Linked DNA regions of Homo sapiens. The protein of the gene in region 2 purifies or fractionates together with the protein of the main gene of each other region. This does not show direct contact. Each region holds a gene or a part of one and is shown on either strand. Other genes may lie near its edges.

The links.
Region 1: the proteins of WDFY3 (region 2) and HERC1 purify together in Homo sapiens (affinity purification with mass spectrometry; 2 studies listed by BioGRID and IntAct, with this or other methods). This does not show direct contact.
Region 3: the proteins of WDFY3 (region 2) and DDX11 purify together in Homo sapiens (affinity purification with mass spectrometry; 2 studies listed by BioGRID and IntAct, with this or other methods). This does not show direct contact.
Region 4: the proteins of WDFY3 (region 2) and DCAF6 purify together in Homo sapiens (affinity purification with mass spectrometry; 2 studies listed by BioGRID and IntAct, with this or other methods). This does not show direct contact.

The regions. Positions count from the first base shown.
Region 1 is NC_000015.10:63,823,534-63,831,301, forward strand, and holds part of HERC1 (probable E3 ubiquitin-protein ligase HERC1), read right to left. Parts: intron 1-7,768. UniProt on the Homo sapiens protein: Involved in membrane trafficking via some guanine nucleotide exchange factor (GEF) activity and its ability to bind clathrin. Acts as a GEF for Arf and Rab, by exchanging bound GDP for free GTP.
Region 2 is NC_000004.12:84,816,459-84,824,226, reverse strand, and holds part of WDFY3 (WD repeat and FYVE domain-containing protein 3), read left to right. Parts: intron 1-2,675; coding exon 2,676-3,143; intron 3,144-4,040; coding exon 4,041-4,142; intron 4,143-6,641; coding exon 6,642-6,835; intron 6,836-7,768. UniProt on the Homo sapiens protein: Required for selective macroautophagy (aggrephagy). Acts as an adapter protein by linking specific proteins destined for degradation to the core autophagic machinery members, such as the ATG5-ATG12-ATG16L E3-like ligase, SQSTM1 and LC3.
Region 3 is NC_000012.12:31,069,039-31,077,414, forward strand, and holds the start of DDX11 (ATP-dependent DNA helicase DDX11), read left to right. Parts: upstream 1-4,821; 5' UTR 4,822-5,053; intron 5,054-5,226; exon of another isoform or gene 5,227-5,506; intron 5,507-8,376. UniProt on the Homo sapiens protein: DNA-dependent ATPase and ATP-dependent DNA helicase that participates in various functions in genomic stability, including DNA replication, DNA repair and heterochromatin organization as well as in ribosomal RNA synthesis.
Region 4 is NC_000001.11:167,931,887-167,939,886, reverse strand, and holds the start of DCAF6 (DDB1- and CUL4-associated factor 6), read right to left. Parts: upstream 3,205-8,000; 5' UTR 2,976-3,204; coding exon 2,879-2,975; exon of another isoform or gene 2,815-2,878; intron 2,809-2,814; exon of another isoform or gene 2,635-2,808; intron 1-2,634. Other genes in the region: MPC2 (mitochondrial pyruvate carrier 2), read left to right, coding at 4,046-4,154. UniProt on the Homo sapiens protein: Ligand-dependent coactivator of nuclear receptors. Enhance transcriptional activity of the nuclear receptors NR3C1 and AR. May function as a substrate receptor for CUL4-DDB1 E3 ubiquitin-protein ligase complex.

The DNA.
Region 1 (7,768 bases), on a different chromosome or scaffold from region 2:
TGACAATGCCCGTGACCTTTCTCAACTGGGGCTTGTTATCTGAACCTCAGAACATTGACAATGGTCGGAGTGGATACTTTCTCAATTCTCACAAGGATGGTACATAACTAGTGCCATCCTACATTGGAGAAAAGTTAATTATTTACATATAACAAATGTCCAAATGTCTTTGGGCATTTGGGTTTATTCTCTTATGAAACCCAGTTGAAAGAAAAAAAGAAACTATACTATACTACTATTATTCCATTATTATTATTCCATTACTACTATTGGGAATAATTTAAAATGAGAGACATTTCTGCATAGCAAAAGAACAATTAACAAAATGAAAACGTAGCCTACGGATTTGGAGAAAATATTTGCAAATTATGTATCTGTTAATATCCAAAATGCGTAAGGAACTCACACAACGCAATAGCAAAAAACAAAAATGAATAACCTGATTTTAAGACGGGCAAATGACTTGAATAGATATTTCTCCAAATAGGACATAAAAATGCCTCAACATCACTAATCATCAGGGAAACACAAATCAAAAAATCAAAACCACAATGAGGTATCACCTGACACCTGTGAGGATGGCAATTATCAAAGAGACAAGAGATAAGTGTTGATGAGGGAGTGGGGAAAAGGGAATATTTGAACACTGTTGGTGGAAATGTAAATTGGAACCGCCATTATGGAAAACAGTATGTAGGTTTCTCAAAAAATTAAAAAGGGCTGGGCGCAGTTGCTCACGCCTATAATCCCAGCACTTTGGGAGGCCGAGGTGGGCAGATCACAAGGTCAGGAGATGGAGACCATCCTGGCTAACACAGTGAAACCCCATCTCTACTAAAAATACAAAAAAATTAGCCGGGTGTGGTGGCAGGCACCTGTAGTCCCAGCTACTTAGGAGGCCAAGGCAGGAGAATCACTTGAACCCGGGAGGCAGAGGTTGCAGTGAGCTGAGATCATGCCACTGTACTCCAGCCTGGGCAACAGAGTGAGACTCCATCTCAAAAAAAAAAAAAAAATTAAAAAGAAAACCACCATATGATCCAGCAATCTCTCTTCTCGGTTTTAACCCAAAAGAAATAAAAGCAGCACCTCTGAGAGAGAGCTGCACTCCCATGTTCACTGCAGCATTATTCACACTAACTCAGATATGGAACCAACCTACACGTCTGTCAGTGGATGGCTCTATAAAGAAATTGTGATACAAACACACTCTGGAATAGTATTCAGCTTTCAAAAAGGAGATCCTGCCATTTACAACAAAACAAATGAAACTGGAGGACACTGTCTTAAGTGACACAAGTCAGACGTAGGAAAAAAAAAAAACACTAAATGATCTCTTCTATATGTGGAATCTTAAAAAAAAAAAAGTCAAATACATAGAAACAGAGACTAGAACAGTGGCTAGGAGAGTAGGGGAGATGCAGGTCAAGGGAACAAAGTTGCAGTTATGTAGGATGAATAAATCTAGAGATCTAAAATATAGCATGAGGGCTGGGCACGGTGGCTAATGCCTGTAATCAATCCCAGCACTGTGGGAGGCCGAGGCAGGGAGATCACTTGAGGCCGGGAGTTCGAGAGCAGTCTGGCCAACTTGGCAAAACCCCATCTCCTCAAAAATACAAAAAATTAGCCAGGTGTGGCAGCACACACCCAGCTACTCCAATGGCTAAGGCATGAGAATCACCTGAACCCAAGGTGGAGGTTACAGTGAACGCAGATCATGCCATTGCACCCCAGCCTAGGTGACAGAGCAAGACTCTGTCTCAAAAAATAAATAAAGTTAGCAAGAGCAATATAATTAATATTAGCATATTATATACCAGAAATTTTCTAAAAGTAGATTTTAAATGTTCCTAGCACATACAAAAAAAGTAACTATGTGAGATGATGGGTATCTTAAATTGCTTACATACAGCAATCATTTCACTATGTATATCAAAACATCATGTGTACACATTAAATTTATACAATAAATAAGTAAGTAAGCCTGAAATAAACAAATAAAATGAGAGAGAAGAGACTGGTGAACAATATGTTACCATCCTGTGACTTTTGTGGGCTTATTTTGTAATCAGTAAAATGAAGTATTATTTGAAGTTTTTATAGCAGCAAAGGTGATTGTACTTTAAGACTATCCCAGGCCTTTACTGGTTCCATTCACAATCAGCACTCAGCATCTATTTTCCTGGGAACATCAGTTCATTAGAAAACCACGAAAAAAAAGAAAAATAATAATTTTTTTTTTTTTGAGATGGAGTCTCGTTCTTGTCCCCCAGGCTGAGTATAGCGGTGGGTCTCAGCTCACTGCAACCTCCACCTCCTGGGTTCAAGTGATTCTCCTGCCTCAGCCTCCCGAGTAGCTGGGATTACAGGCACCCGCCACCATGCTCAGTTAATTTTTGTTTTTTTAGTAGAGACGGGGTTTCACCATGTTGGCCAGGCTGGTCTCAAACTCCTGACCTCAGGTGATCCACCCACCTCAGCCTCCCAAAGTGCTGGAACTAACAGGTGTGAGCCACCACGCCCGGCCAAATAATAATTTCTTAAAAAGAAAACGAATGGAATATAAACTCATCAAGTGCCAGAATCTTTGATTTTCAATTAATGTGTTCCAAGCACCTGGAGCAGCACTCTTTCTGGGAATGAACCTAAATTTCCAGTGTTGCTGGGCAGCACTTGTTACCCTAAAAGATGGGGATTTCTTCATGTTGTCTTGGTTTTTTGGCACCGCTAAAATCTAATAGGATTGCCCTAACCCAGAACTTTAAACTCGCGGTTTAATTTTCATTACGACTGCCCTTCTTCCTTATGGAACTATGACAGGTTCCAAGATACTGCCATTACTGGTCCAAATAACTACCATACCATGGGTATCAATACGTACTGTATATACCGTTCAAAATAACTATGTACAATGTGAACCAGTAACTACCATATCACATATTCTAGCCTAAGAAATATTCTTAGAATTTCAGTTATCCTCTGTTAAACCCCAAAAGTATTTTAGAGCACAGGTACTATGAATCAATGTAGCACTTCCATTAAATGCAAAATGTTAAAATGAACAATCCTGACTAGGCCAGAACTAATGGACTTTACCTGCACATAATAAGCTACATGTATGAATGCAGTATTAGTGGACAATGTATTTCATTTTCAAGCTATAAGAACCAACCATCTGCAAGCATTAAGCACTCATCCACAAGGGGTCACCCGAATGACTACTATTCTTTTAATCACTTATCTCTGGTAAAAAAAAAAAAAAAAAAAAAAAAAAAAAAATATATATATATATATATATATATATATAAAGTATGACAACGTATTCTGTTGGTGCTTTCACACATTACTGGTGAGAATGCAAATTGGTATACTTGTGGAGGAAAATCTGGAATTTGGGAATATCTAACAAAACTACATGTGCACTTAACTTTTGAACCAGCAATCACACTTACAGAAATCTACCTTGAAGATACGGTTCTAACGATACCAAAATACTACGCGCAAGGCTATTTACATAAGAAACAACCTAAATGCCCATACATAGATGAATGGTTGAAGAGGTTAAGAAACATCTACACAGTCAAGTCACAGCTGTAAAAAAGAATAGGCTGGGTGCAGTGGCTCACGCCTATAATCCCAACACTTTGGAAGGCCAGTGTGAGAGGATCACTTGAGCCCAGGAATTCGAGACCAGCCTGGGCAACATGACAAAACCCCATCTCAAAAAATCAACAAATTAGCCAGGTATAGCGGTGCACACTTGTAGTCCCAGCTACTTGGGTGGCTGATGAAGGAGGATCGCTTAAGCCCAGGGGATTAAGGCCACAGTTTGAGCCATGATTGTACCACTGCACTCCAGCCTGAGCAACAGAGTGAGACTGTGTCTTAAAAAAAAAAAAGACCGAAGAAAATGAAAGGAATATCTCTTCAAAAGAATGACCTGATTTGGAGTCATTTCCAGGATATACTATTGAGTGAAAAAAAGTGCAAAAGAGTATAGTATACTCTCCACATAAAAAAGAAGGGAACAGGAAAACAATCTGGCAGTTGCTCAAAAAGTTAAACATACAGTAATCATATGACCCAGCAATTCCACTCCTAGGTATATATACCCATGAGAATTAAAAATATATGTCCACACAAAAAATTGTACATGAATGTACAAAACAGCATTATTCATAACAGCTAAGAAGTAGAAAACCAAATGTACCTCAACTGACGCATGAACAAAATGTAGTATATTCACATAACGGAATAACATTCAGTTATCAAAAGGAATGAAGTACTGATACATGCTACAACATGGATGAACCTTGACAAAATTATGCTAAGTGAAAGAAGCCAGGCACAAAACGCCACATATTATATGATCCATTAACACAAAACATCCAGAATAGGCAAACACACACAGACAGAAAGTAGACTGGGAAGCGGACCTGGGAAGTGACTGCTAATGGATACACAGTTTCTTTTGGGGGTGATGAAAGTGTTCCGGAATTAGATAGTTGTGATGGTTGCACCATCTTGTGAATATACTAGAAACCACTGAATTGTACACTTTAAAAGGGTGAGTTGTATGGTATGTGAATTGTATGGCAATAAGTAACTGTATCAGAAGAAAAGGAATATAAGAGAACACCCACATATATTTTCATTTGTGTAACAGAAATAAAGGAAGGGACAAACCAGAAACTAAAGAGACTATGTACCCACAGGGCATGGGCAAGAGGTAGAAACAAAGATGGAGGGATGGAAATGAGATAGTAAAAACAAGGAGAGAGTGACACTTTTCAGTACAACTTTTTTCCTTTTTTTTTTTTAAGACAAAGTTTTGCTCTTGTTGCCCAGGCTGCAGTGCAATGGCGTGATCTTGGCATACCGCAACCTCCGCCTCCCAGGTTCAAGTGATTCTCCTGCCTCAGACTCTTGGGTAGCTGGGATTACAGGCAAGCGCCACCACACCAAGCTAATTTTGTATTTTTAGTAGAGATGGGGTTTCTCCATGTTGGCCAGGCTGGTCTCAAACTCCCAACCTCAGGTGATCCGCCCTCCTCGGCCTCCCAAAGTGCTGGGATTACAGGCATGAGCCACCGCACCCAGCCCAGTACACCTTTTTATACAGTAGTGTTTAGTAGAAGCAGTGTTTAGTAACTATAATGTTTCATATGCCAAAAAATAATAATAATTAAAATCAACTAGGGTTGGAGGGAACCCAAAATGGAACAGTAACAATAACAAATGAACTTAATGCATTAGGGATGAATAAGATTAAACTAAAGGGAGTGGTAAAGAAAATAACTAACCTAAGTAACTTTGGAAAACTATTTTGACTAGATACTATAAGGCTAAAGCAAAAATAACTACATACAAATACACTAATTAGTAAATACATTTTTCACTAGGGTACAGGTTAGCAATCTGTAACCACTTCATGTGTATTCTAGAAGTCAACAAATAAGTGAGTATACTTACTCTATATCATGAAAGCCAGGTTTCTGACAGAGACAGAAGGAACGGGAGAAGGTTAGAATGAACTTTGTGGTACTGGATTAGAATAGGTGTCAATATGAACCCATGGTTTTAAATATATATAGAATACAGGCAGGGTACTGTGGCTCACGCATGGAATCCCAACACTCTGAGAGGCCAAGGTGGGAGAATAACTTGAGCTCAGGAGCTCAAGGCCAACCTGGGCAAAACAGCAGGACCTCGTCTCTACTAAAAATTAAAAAAAAATCAGCGGGGCATGGTGGGTGCACATCTGTAGTCCCAGCTACTTGGGAGGCTGAGGTGGAAGGATGGCTTAAGCCCAGGAGTTCAAGGCTGCAGTAAGCTATGATCACGCCACGGCACTGCAGCCTGGGTGACAGAGTGAGGCCCTGTCTCAAAAAAGAAAGAAACGTCAGTATGTGTGTGTGTGTGTGCACATATATGTTTATATAAATATATATATATATATATATACACACACACACATATATAAATAATATGTGTGCACATATATGTATGTGTGTGTGTGTGTGTGTATATATATATATATATATATATATATATATATAATATACTGATATATTTCCTAGTTCTGCCAACTGAAGTCCTGGGAGCAATAAAACTCCAATAAACATACCGAGTATACAGATTTTGATTTTAAATACTATTCTCCAATAAAAGAAACCAGAGCTCCTTGGAGAAGTAGTCGACTCCAGGACTGGTGCAAGGAAAAATAAGATGAGCATGGAACAGCCTGTGGCCCCAGAATATAAGAAAGTGCTTGAAAAAGGGTAGAGGCCAACCTGAAAGAGCTTCCAATGGCCAAAGCTGGAACAATTTGAACAACAAAATAAATAATGATAGTATTGGATTATAATCCATAGAAAATAGAGATCCCATAAGAACACACTAATATAAACAAATAATTGAATAAATAAGTGAGGGAAAGGGGACATCTCTCCCTTAAAGAATTCCAATTAATAAATGCAGAAGGAATGAGGGAAATACAAAATCATGATTAGCCAAACACCACAGTAATAACTGTTGCAGACAAGATCTACCAATGGATGTTAAAAATCAATGGGAGAAAGTTTGAGGAGAAACTGTACATCCACAGTCTCAAAGTGTCTCCCCCAAGATATGTATGAACAATAAAGGGAAGAATAGTAACTTTACTGTGAAGAATACCGCTAAGGGTTCAAAGTTAAAATACCACTAGCAAAAAGACATGTCAACACCATGTACCCCCAATATGATGCATTGAGAAGGACACAACATCGCTTCTGTAGTTTTCTTGCAAAACATGCTTAACCTCAATCAAATCATGAGAAAAAACATCAGACAAACCCAAAATGAAAGAAGTTCTAAAAAATAACAGTACTCATCAAAAATGTCAAGGTCGTGAAAAACAAAAACTGAGGAACTGTCAGAGATTGGAGGAAATGAAGAAGACACAACAACTAAATGCAACGTGGGAACCTAGATTAGACCCTAGAACAAAAAAAAAGGCATTAATGGGGAAAAACCAGTGAAATTAAGTAAAATCTATAGTCAATAGAGTTACACCAATGCTAACTTCTGGTTTTGATCACTGTATTATGGTTATGTAAGTTGTTAACATTAGGGGGAGCTTGGTGAAGAGTATGTAAGAACTCTGTACTCTCTCTGTAACTTTTCTGTAAGTCTAACATTATTTCTAAATAAATCATTAAAAATAAATAAAATCCATCAACCAATCATCTGATACAACTGTCATATCTTCTTGCTCAAGGATCTCATCTGAAATTTAACAGTCCCATTAATTTAGAGAGCCCGGTAGGCAACATCAGAACAAACTAAAATCATGAAAATCGGATCTGGCATCTAGTAAGTAAACAACTACTTTATGCTCTTTTTCACTTTTTGTAGTTAAAGAAAATGCTAGCAGATGTGACCTTCCTGGCTTTGCAAACTTCTCTGTAAATGATTTGACCAACTTTTTATGTTTTCAACATCATGATAATCTGCAATACATGCTCACAACAATGTATTTCATGTGTATGTTAAGCCAAAGTTGTGTAGACCTTTGTTGTTGTTTGTTTTGTTTTATTTTGCTTTTGAGATAGAGTCTCACTGTGTCTCCCAGGCTGGAGTAGAGTGGTGCAATCACAGCTCACTGCAGCCTCAATCTCCCAGGCTCAATTGATCCTCCCATCTCAGCCTCCCTAATAGCAGGAATTGCAGGTATGCACCACCACGTCCAGCAAATTTTTGTATTTACCATAGAGACAAGGTT
Region 2 (7,768 bases):
ATCTTATTGTATGTAATGTTTTCAGACTGTAATTAACCATGGGTAACTGAAACCACAGAAAATAAAACCATGAAAATGGGGAGAATATTGTAATACTTTGGAGAATCACCTATGTTATTGCATGTATCAGAAGTTTGTTCCTTTTTAATGCTGGGTATTATTTCATTGTTTGGATAGTCCACAATTTGTGTATCTCTTCACCAGTTGATGGACATTTATTTGACTATCAGGAATAAAGCTACAGTGGACATTTATATAAAACAAATCTTTCTGTGGACATACGTTTTCATTTCTTTTAGCTAAATACAGAGTAGTTAAAGTGCTAGATCATATGGTAAATGTATGTTTAACTTTACAAGAAACTGCCAGAGTATCTTCTAAAGTGGCTGTCCAATTTTTGCATTCACATCAGTAATGTCAGTTCCAGTTGCTTGACGCTGTCAGTAACACTTGGTATTGTTAGTCCTTTTAATTTTAGACATTCTACTAAGTATGTAATAATGTCTAATTGTTATTTTAATTTTCATTTTTATAATTGACTAATGAAGTTTTGCATTTTTTATGTGCTTTGTCACCATCTGTTTCTCTACCTTGGTTCAGATCTCTGAGCCCATTGTTTGATAGGGTTGTTTTACTGGAGTTATAAGAGTTCTTTAGATATTCTGTATAAGTTCTTTATCCCTTAATATGTATTTTGGAAGTGTGTTCTCTTAGTTTTGACTTGCTGGTTTTTTTTTAACGCATCTTTTGAGAAATGGAAGTTTTAAATTTTGATGAAGTCCAGTTTTTCATTTTAATAATATTTTGTGATTGTTTTTCTCCTATTGAAGAAATCTTTACTTCAGATTCACAAAGATCTCTAATGTTTTCTTCTGATTTTTTCTTTATCCAGTGTTTCATATTTTAACTTTTAAATTAAGGTCTATGGTACATTTTAAGTTATTATCATAGAGGGTAGAAAGTAAGGATTTCTTTTTTAATATGGGTATCTGAATGTGCCAAGACCCTTTGTTGAAAATATCATATATGACTACATATATCTGAGACACTTTCTGAATTTTGTTTGATTGATCCATGTACCTGTCCTTAAGCCAATACCACACTGTCTTGATTGCTGTAGCTTTATAATAAGCCTTAAAATCAGGTCACTTAAGTTGTCCAGTTTTGTTCTTTCTTCTCAGAATCATATTGGCTATTCTAAGTCTTTTGATTTTCCATATAAATTAATAATCACATGAACTATTTTTTTGAAAAGCTGCTGAGATGTTGATTATTCTTTTCCAGACATCTTTACTTTTTATATTATGTAGGTAACCAAAAAACAAACTTAGATAGACTGATAGACACAGGAAACAAAGATAAATTTTTGGTATTTGCCATACATGTAATAAACAAGAAATTAGAGAATTGAAATCATATATAGGCTGGAGATTTTTTAAATTTCCTGTGTTTTTAAGAAATGTCGAAGTCAAGATTTCTGAGCATTCTTTTTTGTTTGTTTGTTTGTTTATTTTACAGACAGGATTGCTTTCTGTCGCCCAGGCTGAAGTGCAGTGGTGTGATCATAGCCCACTGCAACCTCAAACTCCTGGGCTCAAGCAATCCTCCTGCCTCAGCCTCCTGCCTCAGCCTCCTGAGTAGCTAGAACTACAGGCACATGCCACCATCCCCAGCTAAATTTTTTTTTAAATCTCTTGTAGAAATGGAGGTGGTCTTGCTATGTTACCCAGGCTAGTCTAGAACTCCTGGCCTCAGGCAGTCTTCCCAAAGTGCTAGGACTACCGGTGTGAGCTACTGCCCCCAGCCCTGAGTGTTCTTTCTGCTCCATTTACTAATTTTGGTAGTTCTCTGGTTTATACTCTTTCTGAAATCCAGCTTATTCTGTCAGACACTATGTTAATTTTTTGGTCATACTTGGAAATGCCATATACTCCTAATAGGTATTGTTCTGGGGACTCCTTTTACAGGCAAGCTGCTTATTTTCATGTACTTCAAATAGAACTTTCTGTCTTAATTTCTTTATAATTATTGTCACTAATTTGCCTCACCAGAGCCATGTATAAAGTTTTTTTTTCCCCATTTGGTACGTTTGAATAGCTGGCCATAAATTACTTTAACAAATGTCTATATGAAGAAATTGTACTGTTAGCTAGAAAACAAAACAAACTTCCAGCTTAAAATTTATAAAAATCACAGTGTTCTAATTATAAAGGAAAACTGGAATTTAGAAAAATTTTCCCCTCCTGTTTTCCTGCTTCATTATTGCTGCTCTCAGGCCTGTAACTTCTTCAGCCTCAAAGTCTTTTTAAATTGAGAGACAGCTGTCCTTATAGTCAAAATCAATCTCATAGATAATAAAACTACCACTCTAAACTCTGAAGCATGGATGTTTATAATAATATGCTTTTATTCCCTCTAAAACAGTCTAACTTTTCAACATACACTATTTTTGAATTGAAATATTCATAATAATGCATTAAAGTTTTAATCATTGTTATTTTTAATTAAATGATTTGAACCTGATGAAGAAAAATAAGACCTTTTGTGAAAACAGGGTTATGTTCTTAGTAAATAATTGATAAATGTTATAATTCATGATGTGTTTAAACAGACTAGTTTGCCATCATTAAAATATCACATAGTACCTACTTTTATGTTTTTCTTTTCTGTTCTAGGTCACAGTGTGAGAAACGTCCAGGCCTTTGCAGTTCTTCAGAATGCATTTTTAAAAGCAAAAACCAGCTTCCTTGCCCAAATCATCCTTGATGCTATCACAAATATTTACATGGCTGACAATGCCAATTACTTCATCCTAGAGTCACAGCACACATTGTCACAGTTTGCAGAGAAGATTTCTAAACTCCCAGAAGTACAAAACAAATACTTTGAGATGCTGGAGTTTGTTGTTTTTAGCTTAAATTATATACCTTGTAAAGAACTTATTAGTGTCAGTATCCTCTTAAAATCTAGCTCTTCTTATCACTGTAGCATTATTGCAATGAAAACACTTCTTAAGTTTACAAGACATGACTACATATTTAAAGACGTGTTCAGGGAGGTTGGCCTTTTGGAGGTCATGGTAAACCTTTTGCATAAATATGCTGCCCTGTTGAAGGATCCAACTCAGGCACTAAATGAACAAGGTAAAGTATTGTCTGTAATTTTATTTTTATTTGAAAAGGGGTTCAAAACAGAGAATTTTTTGTTCTTGTTCCCATTCTTTGGTTATTGATTTCAATGACTTCCTAATGTGCATTATTGTGACATATTAGTGAACTGTATTTTCCAAAATTTACAGGTTCATTCAACCTCTGTTAGGTAATTGAGGAGGAGGAAGCTAGAATTATGTGAGTGTATTGGAGAGAGTTTAAAGGAAGGTAAAAACTGAGGGAAAACATGTATGATCCACATGACTAGTATCTACTGCCTTGTGCTTCTAAGAGCGAGCTTTAAAAGCTTCTGAAAATAATCAGATTTGTTATTAATTACAACTAATAAATATAGTTAAATGTATAGTTACTTCAATGTGTTTTTATTGTACAGAGCAAATACGTATATTTAATGATGTTATATACACAATGTATTATCATTGGGTACCTCTCTGATAAATCTGATAAAAGTACAGTAGTATCTGGCAATTAATAAGTATTAAATGTGAATTAATACAGGTTGAATAGATAGCTTTATTCATGAACTTTTCTCTCTTTTTGGTGTATCAAAATCTAGCGTTCTCCTGTTGACATCCTTTATTAGGAAAACCCTCTGTGAAGAGGATATATTTAACCTTTGCATTTTCATTTTTAATATTTATTGGATAACGGCCACTTGCAAGCATACCGAAATAAAATCTGTTAATATTGATTTTGAGCCTACTTTTGCCAAATGTTGGATGCATGCATCGTTTTAAAGATTATATTATATCTGTCCTATTAGGGGTAAAACTGAATACTGAAGAAATAAAGAAATTATTACAGTAAAACGGAATCAAGAAAAAATAAGCTTATCACTTTTGTAATTTGGACCTTTGAACCTTTTTTTAGGGGACTCAAGAAATAATAGTTCAGTTGAAGACCAAAAACACCTGGCTTTATTGGTTATGGAGACCTTGACAGTGCTTCTTCAAGGATCAAACACAAATGCAGGTAATTTAAAAAGCTGCAAGCAAATACTTTGGGAGATTACCACTGATTACATCTTCTGTGGTTATTCTTGCTTCTGAAATCTTCCTGTCACTTTAGAGAAAAAACTATTGATTCAGTGATGGTACCCGTCATGTCCCTAAAAATGCAGTGCTTTTGACCATCAGGAGCACCTTGATGACAAAACATATAAGATTGTTACTATTTCAAAATGATGTTTAAATTGCTTTTTATAGTGTCTTGTGTTGAAAGTATTCTTCTAATTTTTTATTGATACACTCTTACTCAAATAAGTTGCTATTTAAATTCTTTCTAAAATATTTTCTTTACACAGTGATTTAAAGAATATTTTTAGTACTACAAGTTAGAGTATTATAATGTTACAACCTTCAGGAAATACTGAACAATGATTCTCTAATAAAACGTAATCTCTCCAAGGTTAATTAACTTTACTAAATATTTTGTTTAATTTTGGTCTCAATTTCTCTTTTATACTTTTCTACCTGTCATTAACAGATAACCTAACTATATTTATAAAATATCACTCTTGCTTTTTAAAAAAGATTACTTGAGATTTTAATTAACATCAAACAACTCTCAGGTAATAAGTTCAGTACAACTTGAGAGGAATAATGAGTTCAGATTAGTAGGCTGGGCTCAAATCATAGGGAGCTTTTTAGGCCATGGTAAGGAGCTTGAAATATATTTTAAGTGTTATGGAAAGCCATGGATGAATGAACCCCATGCCCAAATGCATGACTGTTTGCCTGAATGCAGGGAAACTCAGCATTCATCATATTTAAAATATATTGTGTATCCCAGGTACCATGCTAGCTAGGTGTTAGATTATTCTAACACCTAGATGCTAAGGTAAGATCATTCTTGCTCCCTGGGAATTAGAATCTAGTGAAGAAAAATGTAGACACATAATTATAGAAGTAATTAGTCTGATACAAATTTGGCAAATGCTAAGATAGACTTGAATGAATTTAACAGGTAATTGAAACAATGAGTATGATGAATTTTAGTGGATACTATAGTAACATTTTGTCTATGGCATAATGCATAATCTTATTTCCACTAACTAGGTTTAGTTAACTGAGATAATCAGAAACATAATGAAGATAGACTAACAGGAATTTGCTTAGCAAATTAGCTTTCCTTGAGACGACCTAGAAGTTGCACAGGAAGAGATTGGACAATTGGAGAGCTTACTCTGCACGACTAAAAGTCACTTAGTACATATCCCAAAGTGCCAAACAATTTCATACAATTCTTTTCAGTTTTTCTTTTCCCAGTATGAAAGATGTTACTAGCTGTGTGATGTTAGGCATTTAAAACAGTACTTTACTCATAGTTTAAGTATTTAAATAATATTAGCCATTATGATTATCTAGTGGGTCCTAACTGACAACCAGGAGGTAACTAAACAGGCCTTCAGGTAATGAAAGGATGTCACAAATTCCATGTGCTGAATCTCAAGCACATGGCTTAGACTGACTTCATGATCTTATAATTTTTATAAAGTTAACAAATAGAAAGCCACTAAGCAGAGAGGACAGTGGCTGCTATAGCAGAATACACTGTTTTAGTAAACGTTTATTGAAACACAAATCAGGAGAAAATCCAGTAGTCATGGAAGACCAAACATAAGCAATAATAGTAAGACTGTTTGTTATAAACCATAATAGAGATATAAACAAGATGCCCTAAAAACGTAAGGGATAGAAGAATTACTTAGAGGAAATACTAATTAGTGATTTCAGTCACTGGGCCCATTTTTTTAATACTGGAGGATGATATTAATATTTGATGTGAGAACAGTATCACTTGTGAGCAGGAGCACAGGCTTACAGAGCTGGGCTATGTAGGCATACATCCTTTTCTGTTGCTTACTAGCTGTATGACTTTGACCGCCTTACCTCTATATGGTAGGGGATGAGTATTAAGTAAGTCAATCTGTGTAAAGGCTTTGGAGCAGTAACAATGACACATACTTCTGTTACAGAATTTGTCACTTTTTGTTCTTATGCTCTACCTGTGCAACAAAACATGTTGGTTCCTTGTAATTTTTCCCATGGTGGAATAATTTATTCCATTCCTTTCTTGCTACTATTTTGGAAGCCATGTTCATTTAAATCTCCTTTATTTAGGCTATTGTTCCTCTGAAAGCCTTTTACATAAGTTGATTACAATAGAGAGTCTCCTAGGGTCTGCCTAAGAGACTTGTGAATGTTCTAGATTTTGAGAGCTTGGACATGGTGAACATATCACGGCATTAATCTTGCATTAAGGAAATGTAGAGAAAATTTGCATATACCTTTGCTGACAACCCACTGTGCAAATTTGTATTGTAATTTAAAAGGTGAAATAGTTGGGTAGGTTTTATTTACATTATTATGAGTTACTTTACCTACAAAAAATAACTGAATGTTAATTCATCTGACTTGTCTCAGAATATTTTAAAGTAGCCATTGTTGGACTTTTTCTCCTTCCTTCAAGGAATTTTTCGAGAATTTGGAGGTGCAAGATGTGCACATAATATAGTAAAGTACCCTCAATGCCGGCAGCATGCCTTGATGACTATCCAACAGCTGGTGCTCTCCCCAAATGGGGACGATGACATGGGCACTCTCCTGGGGCTAATGCATTCAGCCCCACCGACGGAATTGCAGTTGAAGACTGATATTTTAAGGGTAAGTTTGATAAATGTGTTTCCCTTCTTTTACTACTAAAATCTGTGGTTATTTTTAGATGATCTGTATTTAAGTTAGAGACAGGGAAATTAAAAAAAATCCAAATTACCCAAGAAACCTCACAACTTTGTACACGTTAGGAACTTGGAAAAACTCCAGTCATTTATGTCTTTCAGTATATATTTTACTTCTGCTGATAAACCTTTTCAGTAATTATCTTGACTTACTGGAACTCTTAAATTAAATATTAGTGAAGTATAGGATCTTAATTAATACTAAATATATGTATTTTCTGATCAGTTAAATTCACTCATAGTGTTATGCATCTGTGAAATGAATGTTAGATTTGGCATTTTATACACATGCATGCATATATGTATGTATGTAAGTAATGGATATTCTAGTAGATATCAAACAATATACCAGGAGTTATACATATGCTTTTATCATTTACTCCTTAGTAATACTATAAATTAAGTAGCACCCTGTTTTGCAGATGAGAAAACTTAGGTTTAGAGAAATCATATAACATGGATTTTGTTCACTTAAGTGACTTTTAATTAGTAGAACCGACCCCCAGATTTCAATACCCGTTTTATTTCCACAGCACCATTGTTTTATACAGATTTATACACTCACATTCTCCCATATTACTGGTTATTGATATTATAAGAAATGATATGTAAGAAATTTTTAGAATCAAACTATAATCGAATGTTTCACTTTCATTTAGAAGTGAATTTAGTAATGCAAGTAAGGAGTAATGGAAAAGTAGACTATTAAATATTAAATGATATATTTTAAAAATTTCCAAGTTCCAGATATAATAGTAGCTAACATTTATTGACTGCTTTCTATTAGTACTGTTGTATGCATTTATCTGCATCTACTTATTTAATCCTTATGATAAAAATAAATACTATTAGTGTCCCT
Region 3 (8,376 bases), on a different chromosome or scaffold from region 2:
AGTTTTATAGTTTTATAGCTTTTAACTTTAATTTTTAATTTTAACTTCATTTTAACTTTAGAAAATCCATCTTAAGTTAATTTGGATATATTGTATAAGACAAGGATCCTACTTCATTCTTTTATATGTGGATACCTCCTTCCTTTTGGAAACTTTTCCTTTCAGTAATCTTACTACCTCCACAGCTTTAGTTTAGATGTTTTTTGTTGTTGTTGTTGTTTCCCAGGGGTGATCAAATCCATATATCCAGCTTTTACCACCTTCCTGAGTTCTAGTCCCCCCATTTTCAAACACCACTGAAAATTTAGTTTGACTAAGTACATCAACCTATTATGTGAAGAAACACCATGTCCCACCCCCACTACGGTGTGGCTTAATGAGCTAAAGTAATATATCAAGATAGACATAATAATCCAAGAAACTGGGGTTCAGAGAAGTAAATATTATTAGGGTGCATCTTGCGCTGTTCCAGAGTGAGGCATATAGGGTTTTGGGGACAGAACAATCTAGTCTCTGATAATGTTTTCTCTTATAGCACAGGCACATTTCATGAGCCTTTCCCACTACCTAGGTGTTCCAGTTTGGATGTGGTTTGTTTGGCCTAAGTCTCATGTTGAAATCTGATTTCCAGTGTTGGAGGTGGCGTCTGGTGGGCAATGTTTGGACCATGGGGGTACATCCCTCATGAAAGGCTTGCTGCCCTTATGGCAGAAGTGACTCAGTTCTCACTCTTAGTTCCCAAGAGAATTGCTTGTTGAAAACAAACTTGTACCTCCTACATGCTCTCCTTCTAGAAGAGGATCTAAGGAAATTTATAATAAAAGCAGAGGAACGCTGAAACCAAACCCAATTCATATCAGTAATAGCTACCATTTGTTAAGCTTCCACAATGACAAGTAAGATGTTAAGCCCTTTATGTTACCAGGATTATCTCATTTATCTCATAAGAATTCTAGAACATAGGTCCTATTATTATCTTTATTTTATTCGTGAGAAAAGCAGAGACTCAGAAGGCTTAAGTCATAGGCCAAGGTCATCCAGCCAGTTGAATGGTGGAGTGGGGAATATCTGGATCCAGGCAGTCAGACTGTTTTTTTTTGTTTTTTTTTTTTTGAGACGGAGTCTCGCTCTGTCACCCAGGCTGGAGTGCAGTGCCGTGATCTCGGCTCACTGCAAGCTCCGCCTCCCAGGTTCACGCCATTCTCCTGCCTCAGCCTCCCAAGTAGCTGGGACTACAGGCGCCCACCACCACGCCCGGCTAATTTTTTTTTTTTTTGTATTTTTAGTAGAGACGGGGTTTCACCATGTTAGCCAGGATGGTCTCGATCTCCAGACCTCGTGATCTGCCCACCAGGCAGTCAGACTTTATTAGAACATGCACTTAAAATTAGCAAGAAGGAATGAGAACAACAACAACAAAATTAAAAAATGCTTGCCAAAGAAAACTAAAACAATGTGCAATATTTAGCCCTGAGATCACTAGCAGTGAAGGCAAAGAAGAATGCATAATGGGTTTCTACAGCTCTCACTGTCCGGTTATAGAAAATATTTCTACATTAGTACAAGCACTTTTCTTCCTAAGCCCTGAGTTTTGAGAGTTTATCAAGAAGGCCTCTGAGTTCATTCAATTAATGGCATCATCTAAGGCTGTTTAATAACAAATGCAGAGGTAGTCCACATAAGGAACTTTTGCCTTTACCTTTGAGACAAAGCCCAGGGCCTCACGTTAGGAGTACAGCTCTCTAAATATAAGCCTCCAGGGCAGAAGCGAGGGGAGGATGGAGGGACACAATGCAGATTTACAGCCTGGTGGGTACGGCCTTTGTCCTCTCCATGTCTATTGTCACTCTTGAGGTCCAAGCCTCTACTGCACTGCCTGGTTTACTGCACAACCCAACTTGGCTGCTTGCTTCTGGTCTCTCCCCACCAAACCATCCTTCACACTGCTTCCAGCTTAATATTTCCAAGACACTGCATTTGCAAATCCACTCCTCTGTTTAAAAATGTTTCAGTGACTTGCAACTTGTCTACAGTGTGAAGTATAAATTTATTAGCTTGTTGTTTAAAGCCTTCTACAACCAGACCCCGACCGACCTTCACGTCCTATTGAGAGGTGACAGCCTGCTGGCAGCCCTCGCAGCCCTGGCTCGCTCTTGGCGCCTCCTCGGCCTTGGCACCCACTCTGGCCGCGCTTGAGGAGCCCCTCAGCCCGCAGCTGCACTGTAGGAGCCCCTTTCTGGGCTGGCCAAGGCCGGAGCCAGCTCCCTCAGCTTGCAGGGAGGTGTGGAGGGAGAGGCGCAGGCGGGAACCGGGGCTGCGCTCGGCGCTTGCGGGCCAGCGCGAGTTCCCGGTGGGCGTGGGCTCGGCGGGCCCCGCAATCGGAGCAGCCGGCCCGCCAGCCCCGGGCAGTGAGGGGTTTAGTACCTGGGCCAGCAGCTGCCGTGCTCCATTTCTCGCCGGGCCTTAGCTGCCTCCCCGCGGGGCAGGGCTCGGGACCTGCAGCCCACCATGACTGAGCAGCCCGCCATGACTGAGCCGCCTGCCGGCGCCCCAGCCATGGGCTCCTACGCGGCCGGAGCCTCCCCGACGAGCGCCGCCCCCTAATCCGCGGTGCCCAGTCCCATCAACCCCCAAAGGGCTGAGGAGTGCCGGTGCACAGCGCGGGATTGGCAGGCAGCTCCACCTGCTGCCCGCTGCCGCATCCACTTGGTGAAGCCAGCTGAGTTCCTAAGTCTAGTGGGGACTTGGAGAACCTTTATGTCTAGCTAAGGGATTGTAAATACACCAATGGGCACTCTGTATCTAGCTCAAGGTTTGCAAACACACCAATCAGCACCCTGTGTCTAGCTCAGGGTTTGTGAATGAACCAATCGGCACTGTGTATCTAGTTAATCTGGTGGGGACTTGGAGAACCTTTGTCTAGCTAAGGGATTGTGAATGCACCAATCGGCACTCTGTATCTAGCTCAAAGTTTGTAAATGCACCAATCAGCACTCTGTGTCTAGCTCACGGTTTGTAAATACACCAATCGACACTGTGTATCTCGCTAATCTAGTGGTGACCTGGAGAACTTTTGTGTCTAGCTCAGGGATTATAAACGCACCAATCAGCACCCTGTCAAAACGGCTCAATCAGCTCTCTGTAAAACAGACCAATCAGCTCTCTCTAAAATGGACCAATCAGCAGGATGTGGGTGGGGCCAGAGAAGAGAATAAACACAGGCTGCCCTAAGACAGCAGCAGTAACTCACTAGGATTTTCTTACCACAGTATGGAAGCTTTGTTCTTTTTGTTTTTTAGGTCTGCACTGCCTTTATGAGCTGTAACACTCACTGCAAATGTCTGCAGCTTCACTCCTGAAGCTAGTGAGATACACGAACCCACCGGGGTGAACTAGCAACTCCAGTACATGCCGTCTTAAAAGCTGTAACACTCAGGCGAAGGTCTGCAGCTTCACTCCTGAGCCAGCAAGACCACAAACCCACCAGAAGGAAAAAACTCCAAACCCATCGGAACATCTGAGGGAACAAACTCCAGACACACCGCCTTTAAAAACTAACACCGCGAGGGTCTGCAGCTTCAGTCTTGCGTTAGTGAGACCAAGAACCCATCAATTCTGGACACACTATCAACTTTGTTTCTCCAAGGGTGCTTCTTAAACTGGATGATGCACACCCTAGGAGTGTGTGTGTAGGATGGGGTTTGAAGCAGTAGGGTAAAAAACCTAGCATACATTCTATTCCAGAGGTGTCAATTTACCAGACAACAGTTATTTTAAAACTTTTTTATGCAAAAACATGTTATAGGGTGGAATGCAACATTTTTATGGGCCTGTGGGCCATTTGTATACATCTTTGGAGAAATGGCTATTTAAGTACTCTGCCCATTAATTCTAAACTTAAAACTAAGACTTCAAAGTCCCTCTAAGGATTTTGCTGGGCCACATCCCAAGACCCTGAAGGGTATTACTTACTCGCCCTCTCCAAACTGCCGAAGTCGGAAGCAGGTGACAAAAAAGCTGACCCTGGAATCACCTTTTGTAAATTTCCCACCTCCAAGCTTTTCGATAGTTTGTAACACTGGCTCCTCTCCCCAAAAGCCTTTCCTTCAAGTCCCAGCAACTCTCCCTGACCCTGCTGGGAAGGCGCACCAATTACCTGTCATTCCAGGAAAGCTCATAGCATAAGATGATCCCATTGGTCATCTCCCAGAACCAGACTTTCTGAAAAGTCCTCAAGGACCAGCTAGTCCAATCCCTCACTGAATAAAGGAGAAGCAAAGTCTAGGGAGGTGAGGTGATTCGTTGTCCTCCTAATTAGCAGGTGAGCTCCTGGCAGGGCTGGGGTTTCATCTTCTGGGCTCTCTGCAAGGTCGTGCCCGGCACGGGCCAGGAACAATTTCATAAACTCGTCATCTAGACGGCCTTTGACTGACACCATCTCTCCGTGTGGAGGAGCCGCTGGGGTGCACGGGGCAGGTGTCGTCCGTTTCAAAGGTAAAATAACCCAGCTGCAGACCTCCAGAGGCCGACTAGAGCCGGGGTCAGAAAACAGGTTTTCCCTCTCGGGGACAGCGCCCAGGGGACCGGCATTAGAACATCGGCTGATGTTTCATCTGGTCAGGGAACCATCCAGCGCTTAGTACACCTGGCGCTAATCGGCGGGGATTAATCTCACACCCCGCAGCTGGCGGAAAGCAGCGGGAGGAGGCACCTAGCCCTGGGGTTGAGATCCCAGTTCCCGCGTGCGCAAACCACGCCCCTGTAGATTCTCGCTGCTGCGTGTTCGCGCGCGTCCCGGAGTGCGCATGCGCAGCGGCGGGGGTTGTTCCGGCTGCCTTTCACTGAGGGGACCCGCCAGTTTCTAACTCAGTGGCGTTTGCCCTGATTCCCGGGGCCTGGCTTTCAGCGTAGCAATTCTGCCGGCGAAGAAGGTGAGCGCAGTGCTGTGTGGCAGCAGAGCTCCTTAGGACGAGGAGCAGCGGGACGAGGAAGGGCAGACTGGTGAAATCGCAAACTGGGCGTCTGTTCCGGCGCCGGACCCCTATTTGCAAAGGTGGGTGGCCCGTCCGGAGCGGGAAAACATTCCGGAAGTGGAGGGCCGGGCCAGCGTGATTGACAAGCGGGAACCCCTGTGTGGGGACGGGTAGGCCTAGGAAGGTTGTGCCTGCGGTGGAACTGGGCGGTGCGCAGAAGTGGGCATTAACAGCAGCCGCGTGTCTGGGTCTTAGATTTGGCCCAGCTGTGTTGAGCTTTTCATGGATTATCTTACGTAGATAAGACACTGCAACAGTGAGTGAGCGCTTGTAACCCACCTGTCTCTTACGGAAACTGAGCCCCAGCGATGCTAACTTTAGCAAGGATACAGCTGGGATCCTAAACTTGGCAATCAGAGCCCAGAGCCGATAAAGTTAGCTGCATGAGTCTAGCTTCCCCCAGGGCGGGAATCGAGGCGGAGCAGGGTACAGTACGGAGGCCAGGAATGAGTGCACTTGACCAGATTGTTGACGGAAGTGTCATAAAAATGGACTTAAATGCTGATAAGCAGCTGTTTGGGTTCCACACAGGGTGCGAGCTCAGGATGCACGTTGGAGGGGACACAGGGCCAGAGCAAGGTGGGAATGCGGGTATTATGGGCCAGGCCATCCTCCAGCTGGTGGAGCACCGCAGTACTGCAGTGTGTGGCCCTGGCTTAACAGCAGTGCGGAAAAGCTTTTTTCTTGGGGCTGTGGTGCTTTCCAGGTGTGTGAAGTTAAAACATTTTAGGGCCATACGGTAGATAGTACCTGCCACATAGTTGTCTTGGTCAGCCCCGGCTGCCATGACAAAATACCATAAACTGGGTGGCTTAGACACAGAAATGTGTTTTCTCACAGTCCCAGAGGCTTGGGATGTCCAAGATCAATGTGGGGAGGACACAACTGAGCCCACAACAATAGTCTGTACTCAGTAATGAGTGATAATTGGGGACTGAAGAAAATGAACACGTTAAGAACTAATATGTTCCTGAAGTGCTTTCACAACTCTAACCTCGTTTTATGAGCGTGAGCTTTGCTGTCCTGGTGTGTGCCTTGGCACTGGGAGGTGATGGTTGTCCTCCACACAGCCAACCTGAAGAGGGCTGAACAAGTCACTGCAAATGTTTTTAATAGGGCTTAGTGAATCCGTTATACTCAGATTTATCTAAACCTCTATGATTTAGCCTGTGCTGCTTCTGGAATAATGAGATCCATAATTACCACTGATGGGGAAGTGAAATAATACTTACGTTTCTTCTGTATTGTTTAGTGTTGTCATTCTAGAGTTTGGTAACCAAGTCTGTCTTTTTTATCCCACTTATCCTGGTGGGAGGAAAAGTGAGGAGATAGAAAGTTTCAGGTGGCTTGGGGGTCTGGCAGATGTGGTTCAAATCCTGAGTTCAAGCACTTGCTGAGTGACCTTGGGCAAGTCATATAAGTTTACTGAGTCTCAGTTTCTTTCTCTATAAAATAGAGCTTATAAAAATACCACACAGGGTTTTTGTGGGGTTATCTGAAAACGGTTTGAAACCATTAAAGAACTGGCCATTTAACTAATAGGTATTCAAGTCATGGGACCTCCGTTACCCAGCCTCGGAAGAGAAACCTTCACTTACAGCCCCGATGTCTGGCTGGCTACTCATTCGTTCATCAGATTTTTGTTGAATGCCTATGAGGTGTCGAAGCACCTAGTTCTGAGTCCTGGAGCCAGAGAAGAGCAAGACAGACAAGGTTCCTCTATTTATGGAACGTATATTCCAGTGAGGAAGAATAAATAGGTTCAGATGGTGCTAAGAGCTATGAATAAATTAAATACAGAGTAATGTGATTTTTTAAAAGTGACTTAGAGCAAGCTAGGGGGTGAGGAGTGGGGGTGGTGTTTGACCACTGTCCAGCGGCCAGACAGCCGGAGAGGCTTCTCTGAGGAGGTGAGCCAAAGCCTGGATATTGAGGAGGACTCCTTCTCCAGGCCAAGGGGAGCAGCAAGTGCAAGGCCCGAGCTGAGTAGATGAGGCTGGGAGCCTGACCAGTCTCAGGCTGACCAGTGCTCTGTCTTGAGAGGAGCTGCTGGTCAGCTTTTTGTCTTGGGATTCAGAACGAGGAGACATGAAGACTTTTTACTTGGCAGTGGGAGCTGAAGCTGAAAGGTCCAGGGGCTGATGAGGCCACGTGTAAGCGAAAGTTTGGGATAAGCAGAAACCGAGTGCGCTGAGGGAGTGAGATTGTGGCTGTATCCGGCACCTGGCTGAGCAGGAGAGTGAACCCCGTGGGTGTGTGTTTGCTGGTGACGTTCCTGGAGCTGTCTTGAAGTCCGAGCTGCCTTGCAGCTTGTAGTCTGCCTCTGTTTTTGGCTTTCCCAGATAGTTTCAATTCTTACTCTCAGTTTGTGAACCTCCCTTCAGTGAACCTCCCTTCACTTATGCTGGATATCTCTTGCAACCGGATGAGCTTCACTAAAGCAGAGTCATTTGGACCTGGATTCGAATCCCTGGTTTTCCACTTTTTAGCTGTGACTTTGAGCAATTATTTAATTTCTGTAAGCATCAGTATCCAGTAGCTGTATCCTTATAGTGTTGTACAGATTAAATGAGATAATAAAAGCAAAAGACCACTGTAGAGTGTTTAACACATAGGAGGTACTCAAAAATTTGTTAGGTACCTTTCTTCCCCTTTCCTTCATGTGTTAAAGCTTTTTCAGTACATACCCCTCTCTCAGGATTGAATTGTAAATCATGTTTTTTGATTACCCTTCTTGTAATAATTCCTCTACCTCTGTAGTCATGTTTTTCTTTTTTCATTTTTTCTTGTCCCCAGAATGTCTAACAAAACAGCCAAATATACCTCTGTGAAGACAGAGGGTAAAATAATGCTAGTTCTGTGAGTTCTCTCTTCTTGTGCAAATCCATAAACTGCCACCAATCTGTAGTCATTTTAATTGCCCCTAAACCGAAGAGCATCGTGGCAACTACCTTTCCCCTCGTAAATAGAGTGACACTATCACTAGTCTTATTGAGGCCAAAGTTATAAAGATGGGCTCTCGATCTACTAATATTAGTAAAATGGGTTTGGGACTTACTAACATTTGTGCTTAGAAGAGACAGACCTGGCAAAGAGCTTGGAGAAGTGAGTTCCAAAGAGAGAGGTGTGGGAACCAGGATGGAAGAGTCAGGCCTCCAGATAGCGTTTACTTCTCCTTTCTTCCTTGAATCACTGTCTCAGAGATAATTAGGTTCAGGAGAGGAGAAAAAAAAAGATGACGTCAACGTGGAGCAGAGTTTTTCTTAGACCTTAGCCTAGCAAGGAAAGAGAAATGCCTGGTCTCAGTACTGGGAAGCTGTTCCAGCCAGAGCCCCGTGGCTGT
Region 4 (8,000 bases), on a different chromosome or scaffold from region 2:
TTAAATATTGAAGTCTTTTAAAAAAGGAATCTATTTCCTTAGGAAAATCCTAACTTGGAATTTGACTTTTAAAAGGAAGGCTTTATAAGTGTACCATACTTTATTTATTTATTTATTTATTTATGACGCAGAGTTTCCCTCTGTCGCCCAGGCTGGAGTGCAGTGGCACAATCTTGGCTCACTGCAACCTCCACTTCCCAAGTTCAAGCTATTCTCCTGCCTCAGCCTCCCAAGGAGCTGAGACTACAGGCGTACGCCACCACTCCCGGCTAATTTTTGTATTTTTAGTAAAGACCAGGGTTTCACCATGTTGGCCAGGCCGGTCTCAAACTCCTGACCTCAAGTGATCACCCACCTTGGCCTCCCAAAGTGCTGGGATTCCAGGCGTAAGCCACCGCGCCCGGCCAAGAGTACTGTACTTTAAAAAGTCATTTTATCTAATAATAAAAATAAAATTAATAATAATGATAAAGTCATTTTATCGCCACACACAAAAAAAGATGGTAATTATGTGACATGATGGATATGTTAATTAACTTGATTGTATATGAAGTTATCAAGTCCTACACCTTAAATATAACAATTTTTAATTGTCAATTATACCCCAATAAAACTGGGAGGGAAAGTCATTTTTTAAAAAAAACCATCACTAATTCAAACATTACCAATGTGGATTTTGCTGCTTCCTGAATGCAAAGCCAGGATTAGCACTGTAGTATAGAAGAGCTGAATAACAGTGTAAAGGTCTACTAAGGGTAAAGGCCAATAAATTAGTTCTTTGCAAACATTTTCAAGTTTCGATACTTTCAAAAAGTATTTTCAAGTACTTAGAAAACCACTTTTAAAGGAAGTCATTCCAAAAATGTCCTATTTTAAGAGTATATATTATCATATCTAAAATATTATTTAAGATAAAGAACTCCCTGTATGTATACATACACATTTGAAAAACTGTAATTCAGGCTTTCTAATATAGTCAGTGAACCCTTCAATTCCCCTAGACCCAATACACAAATTCCATTTCCATTAGGGAGTTGGAGTAGGAGGGGGAAAAGCAGGTATATGGTTTTGTTATATTTTAATTAACTCGTTTGTAGATATAGCTGAAGTAACTGAACCAAAAGAAAACACTAAAATATAGAACTATATACAAGTACTTAAACTGTCCAACTGAGATAAAGGACCAAATTATAAATGTATCCATGCAAAACAATGTTAACGTTTGTTTTATTAAGCTAAAATTAAGTTCTTTCTCCGCAAATAAATTCTAAAAGAAATACTGCACACTTTTTTTGGTAAATAGTTTTAAAAACCAGACTCCAGCTATGTTCAATTTTAAAATGATTAATCACCACTCTAGGTACTTATCCTACAACAAATGCACAGAAGCTTGTAGAATGATGTTCATTAAAATGCTGTAAGGGCGAACGTCTACTTAAAGAAGAAAGGTTGAGTACCCTATGGTACTTCATAATGTTACCTACTATGTAATAATTTAAAAGACAGAATCAATCTATTTTTACTGCCATGGAAAGATCTCCAAAATGTGGAGAAGTGAAAACAATGTTTACAATATGACACCATGCACTCAGGTGTCTCTCTCATACACACACAAACACACACACACCCCAGCATTTGTACATGTACATATGTACTTGTAAGAATGCAAACAAAAAGGTCTGGAAGAATATTCAGAAAACAGAAAATATTATTTCTAAGGGTGGCGGAGTGAAATTGAATGGGAGGGATCAAAGGGATTTTTGCTTCATTTTTATTGAGTTTTTATAAACAAAATGTATTCGTATTTTACTTGAGACACTAAAAAGAATTAAAAAATTGCATGCTAACTTTTCTTAAATAATTTACAAACCAGAACTGTTGGTTGTAATGAGATTTCATTTTCTTCTCTTTACTTGAAATCAAAAACAAATGAGAGCAACAAACACTTTTTAACTAGCAAGTGGCAAAACTGGAAAGAAAAAAATTTTATGATGTTGTTTGCCGTATCTCCAAATAGAAAGAAAGAGTAATGAAGAGTATACAGGAAGAAACAAAAAAGACCTTTACTAAGTACGTCCATTTTTAAGAAACCAAACTTTTTAGTTGACTCGGGCGTGACCTAGAATCCTCAAAAAAAAAATGTTATGCAAAACGAAAAAAGTGGAATACTGTTCCCCCAAGTACTGAAGGTTGTTTTTAGAAAGCTTAACTACGAAACTGTAAATGCCAAGTGTGTTTTCCAGGGGTGGGAAGAGGAACGTGAAACCCTACACCACCTTTAAGCGGTCAAAACGAACTGAAGAGCAGAGTGGAACTGGGAGAGCGCGCGGGGGTGGGGAGAGCTCAGCTATCACTTTTAGGTTTTGGCTCAGCGCCGCAAAAACAGTTTACACGGATTCTGTCTGGAGCGTGAAGTCCCTGAGGGTGGTCAACGCGTCGCAGCCGACACCTAAACCCTCTGGAGATTGAAGGAGAGGGTGGGCAACAACTTAGGTTCTTCGGCTGAGCGGGGAAAGCGCGCTGGAAAAGAGCAAAAGAGCTAACTTTTGCTCTAAACGCGGCAGCTCCTGGAGGTTCCGCAAGTCTCCCGAGTCCCAACCCATCAGCGACCCCAACACCTTTACAAGCCAGTACCTTCTGCCCACGGCCCGGCCCTCCGAGAAAAACCCAGCAAGGGCGGCGGCTGGCAGCATGCACAGGGGGCTTGACTGGGGGAGGCACCGGCACGGAATTCGGCAACCAAGGCCCCACCCAACACCCCAGAGTCTCCGGGCGCCCCCACCGAGACGCCGTCCCACCTCCAACAGACCCGGCAGCGTGCCCCCTCCCCCACTCTAGGCGGCGACCTCAGCGCCTCCGCCCCGGGGCCCCCGCTCACCCAGGTAGCGACTCCGCAGCCGGGACGGGTCCTCCAGCCCGAGGGACCTTTTCCTCACGTCCCACAACAGGTGTGGGTAGGAGCCACCCCGAGACATGGCTCTGCCTGAGCCGGGTGGGAGGGGAGACCACCGCGTGGGGGAGGGGAGGAGGGGGAGGGGACACCCGTTTCAACACCCGAGCCGCACCGGCACCATCCGCGCGCCGGGCCTCCAGGGCGCAGCGTTAGATGGCGGTGGCAGCAGCGGCGCCTGGGCCCCTGAAGCCCGGCCGCACCCGGGCCGGAGCTCGCCTCATACTCTCCTTCTTAGACTAACCAGAACATCCAAAGATCAGCAACAGTCTCCTCCCTCAGCCCCCCTCCAACAGGAGGAGGCGGAGGCGGAGGCGATGGCGACTCCTCCCTCTCCTCGTCCTGGATACCCTCCCCGCCAACCCTTTCTCGCGAGATGACGACCACCCTGGGGACTGAGGCTGGTGTGTGCTGCGGCTGCCCTCACCCTGGAAGAATGCATTCGGGCCACTCTAACCAGATCCTTAAGTCGCTAGGGATAAAAGACGAGTAGAGAGAGAAGCTACTCAATTCTGTAGTCTCTCGCTCACGAGTCTCCAGTGAAAAGAAGCAAGAGAATTGTGCGGCATCATCTTTAGGCACTGAAGGCCCAAAAACCCATTTTAACTACGGGCCTGCTTAATCAAAGTGAAAGGGCAGTAGAACCAGCGCAGCTTCACTTTCCCTTCTCCAACATGGCCTCGAGGGCATGGGGAGAAGGAGGAGGTTTCCGCTCGACCCCGCCCGCGCCTCGGGGCGGGCCAATCATGGCGGGCAGCTCGGCCTGCGCAAGCGCGCTGCCAGCAGGGCGCAGCGCAGACTTGGTGAGGTGATTATTTTGGCACCTGTTGCCATGGCTCCTCCCTCTCTCCTGCCGGGGGCCGGAGGCGGACCGGGGGCTGGCAGTCGGCAGCCTCCGCCCCCTCAACCTTCGCGGGGCGCGGGCCGCAGCTTTTCGGTTCACAGCGGGCAGGGAAAGCCGCGGGAAGGGTACTCCAGGCGAGAGGCGGACGCGAGTCGTCGTGGCAGGAAAAGTGACTAGCTCCCCTTCGTTGTCAGCCAGGGACGAGAACACAGCCACGCTCCCACCCGGCTGCCAACGATCCCTCGGCGGCGATGTCGGCCGCCGGTGCCCGAGGCCTGCGGGCCACCTACCACCGGCTCCTCGATAAAGTGGAGCTGATGCTGCCCGAGAAATTGAGGCCGTTGTACAACCATCCAGCAGGTAATGGACCCTGAATGGCTCCTTATCGAGACCTTCCTTCTCGCTTCCTCTAAAATGGACCTTTTAGAGGCCCTCTGACAACTGCCTCTAGAGGCATCCACAGCCCCAATCCCTTCCCTTCAAGTGAAGCCGTCTACTCTCCTAGCCTGTGCATTTCACCCTCTCTCCTGCAACATCTCTTCCTAAGCCAACGTATCTCAAGTCAGCTCCCTTCCCCACCTATGTGACATCCGCTCCCTTACGCACGACTCCAACCCAAACCTGATCTCCAGATTTGAGCCTTCTCAACTTCTGCGGCCACCAAACTGTCTGGGGCCACCATGAAACACTCATTCTCTTTCTCTTTTCGAATTGTGGCATATTAACCCACTCTAGGCAGAGCTGGATGGGTGGTTTGTCGCACTGTAGGGTTTGGAGTAAAGGTCACTTTCTTCAGCTGCTGCTGGCAGAGGCCTGCAGACTGAGCCCTCCCCCAAACTGCATGCTTTACTTCATCCAGGCTTGAGTCAGTGTCATTTCTCATCCCATAGGTCCAGTGTGTTTTTTTAAGTCTATCCTTATTTATGAAATTGTTGAACAAGCTCTACCCAGAGCTTTTTGTGTGGACAGACCTGGATATCATTCTCTTCTACCACTTATAGTTGTGACCTTGAGCAAAAGCCTAGATCTCTGTTTGTGTAATACGCGGTCTATGAGAATGACAGATAACATATGTGCTTGACTCTTTGTAAATGCTCAGTAAACGTTACATCTCTCTTTGCCTACTGGAAAACTGTGTTCTTGTGGTTGAAAAAAAAAACTGTAAGAAACTGAAAGATTCCAATCCCTTTATTAAAGATCTAGAATTCTGTTACCTCTTCTATAAAGTGAGTTGTAATAATACTTATTTGCTAGGGGCTAACATCAGATATATTCTGAGGTCTGTTTCAAGCCTAAGACTTGGCAAACTAGAAAATGTGTTGTAAATTGAAAGACTGAAGTGCTACCCGAAAAGTGGCTTTTATTCTCCTACATAGTTAAAATCTGTATTCTGTAGTTGGTATCATTAGGAAAGTTGTCTAGTTCCCCCATTATCTGATTATGAACCAGCTCTCTGGAGTCTGAACTGGTTACTAAATCTGATTTCCAGTTTGATAATGGAATGAATTGAACATCTGGATTATACTCTAACCCTTAATATTATTTACTGCAACATTGAACCCATTATAAAACTGATCATTAAGGACAGTTTGTTACTGATTTAAAAAGTTTTTGTTTATTTGCCTTTTAGTTCTTTTAACATTCAATTTTTTTGGAATTATGCTGTGTTTTGTGGCAAAGATTTTCGGGAAGGAGGGTTGAGCTATGCTTTTTGTAATAATCTGGGCTTTACAGAGTCAACTGAATGTGAAGTCAACCCTGACCTTCATAAGCTTTGTGTTTTAGCTGTAGGATAAGGGCATGACAGAGTAAGAGTAATTTTAAACTACTTAAAATAATACAAAATTGGAGGGTAGTCTTACCTTGATCCTTTCCAAGCCTTTAGTTTTTAGCCACCTGTAATTACTGCTTAAAATACTACTCAGCTTTCAGAATGAAGAGGGATTACCTTTCACTTGCAGGATGTGCATTTCACCTGAAAATCCTTGGATTCGTTCAGTTATTTTAACCCCCTTTTTCAGTGTAGTAAAAGGAGCTAGGCTTTGAAGGGAAATAGACCTACGTTTCAGTCTTGGCTGTGTGACCTTGACCCTAAATTCCTGCCTTAGTTATCTCATCTATAAAATGGGAGTAATTGTAATCATTTCAGGATTGTTGTGAAAATCAGATGATCTAATGTCTCTAAAACATGTAGCACAGCGTTTGCACTTAGACTCTCAATAACTGTCAGTTCTAAAATTTGAGCAACATACAGAGTAAGGATATCTATTACAGCAGAATTATTTATGATCGACAAGTTGGAGGCACACCAGTGTAGAAATGGAGGAGCTTGAAAAATACGTTGACTGATGAGTATTGAATAAAATCTAAGGAAACACTGATTATTGTCTTAAGAGTTTATCCAGAGTGAATATTCAAGGATTTTGCATACTATTTTGCCTAACAGTATTTGTTATTGAATTGTCATTGAAACATTTTTCTAGATTCACCTACAAGGAGTTTATTAAATGATATGAAATGCTACAATATTAACAGTTGGAAATCATACATTGCTGATTCTAGATTTTTGAGATTTAATTTTATCACTGACACTGTATGTCTCGACAGGTAACAAGAATGTGTTTTTAGCCAGGCACGGTGGCTCACACCTGTAATCCCAGCACTTTGGGAGGCTGAGGTGGGTGGATCACCTGAGGTCAGGAGTTTGAGACCAGCCTGACCAACATGATGAAACCCTATCTCTACTAAAATACAAAAATTAGCCGGGTGTAGTGGCGGGTGCCAGTAATCTCAGCTACTTGGGAGGCTGAGGCGGGAGAATCACTTGAAACCAGGAGGTGGAGGTTGCAGTTAGCCAAGATCGTGCCATTGCACTCCAGCCTGGCAACAGAGCGAGGTTCTGTCTCAAAAAAAAAAAAAAAAACTAATGTGTTTTTATGTATAGATACATATTTTAGTTACAGTATTGCATCTCTGACCTGTGAGCCAGAATTTTGAGGCTCTCATTATCCATTTGCCTATGTGTTTTTGCTGGCATGTCATGATCTGCCACTGTAGAGAAGGAATAGAGTTCTAGCCAAATGTGTGTCCTGGTCAAGTTCCTCAACTCACAAAAAAGGATGTCAGTCCCCGCATTATCCCCCACCTGACTATAAAAATATGTGACTCCACCCTAGCCAGTTGCATAGCTGTACTCCAGTGTTTGTCAAAGAAATAATCTTGAAGTTATGTTGCCCAGTGTTATTTTTTCTTTTCTTTTCTTTTCTTTTTTTTTTTTTTTTTTTGAGACAGAGTCTTGCTCTGTTCCCTAGGTTGGAGTGCAGTGGTGTGATCTGGGCTCACTGCAACCTTGGCCTCCTGGGTTCAAGCGATTCTCCTGCCTCAGCCTCCTGAGTAGCTGGGATTACAGGCATGTGCCACCATGCTCAGCTAATTTTTGTGTTTTTAGTAGAGATGGGGTTTCCCCATGTTGGCCAGGCTGGTCTCAAACTCCTGACCTCAGGTGATCCACCTGCCTTGGCCTCCCAAAGTGCTGGGATTACAGGTGTGAGCAACCACACCCGGCCCAATGTTTTCTTAAAAGCTTAGTTAAGGAAAACAAAAAAATTATCAGTGGAGGAGTGTCATTTATTTGTATTTGTGAGTTCCAAAATGGGGTAAGTCATCCCAAGGGGTGCACACAATGAAACACTGGAATGTAGGAAGAAAATTATAGAACTTCCAGTAACGTTTACTGTTATTTCATCCACTTAAATTTTTCATTGTGTATACATTCTGTAATACAAAAATATATTATTGCAGTAATTCTATATAATTTATAAATATATAAATGATTTATAAACAGGATGTATACTCAAATTGTTTTTTACTGATAGGGCATATGTTCAAGAGGAGCTGGAAGACCACAGCTCTAAAGAGTCTAAAAACTATCCTTTGGTGAAGTTAGTCCCAAAAACAGCTATCTGAACCATATCATTTTAACGCATTATAGCTCTCCTTTTACTGAATTACATTTTGGCTTACATGGAAGAGCTTTTGAAAAAATAGTTCTGTGAAACTTGTTGCAGTGCTTAATGTGCTGGTGCTGAGAATATCATTCTTAACATTACATGGGTTCCCTCTGAAGACTCATGGGAAAAGTTACTTTAAAGTCTAAATAAGAATAATATTTGCATTTTTCCTAGATAATTAGCTTGTTTAATTTTA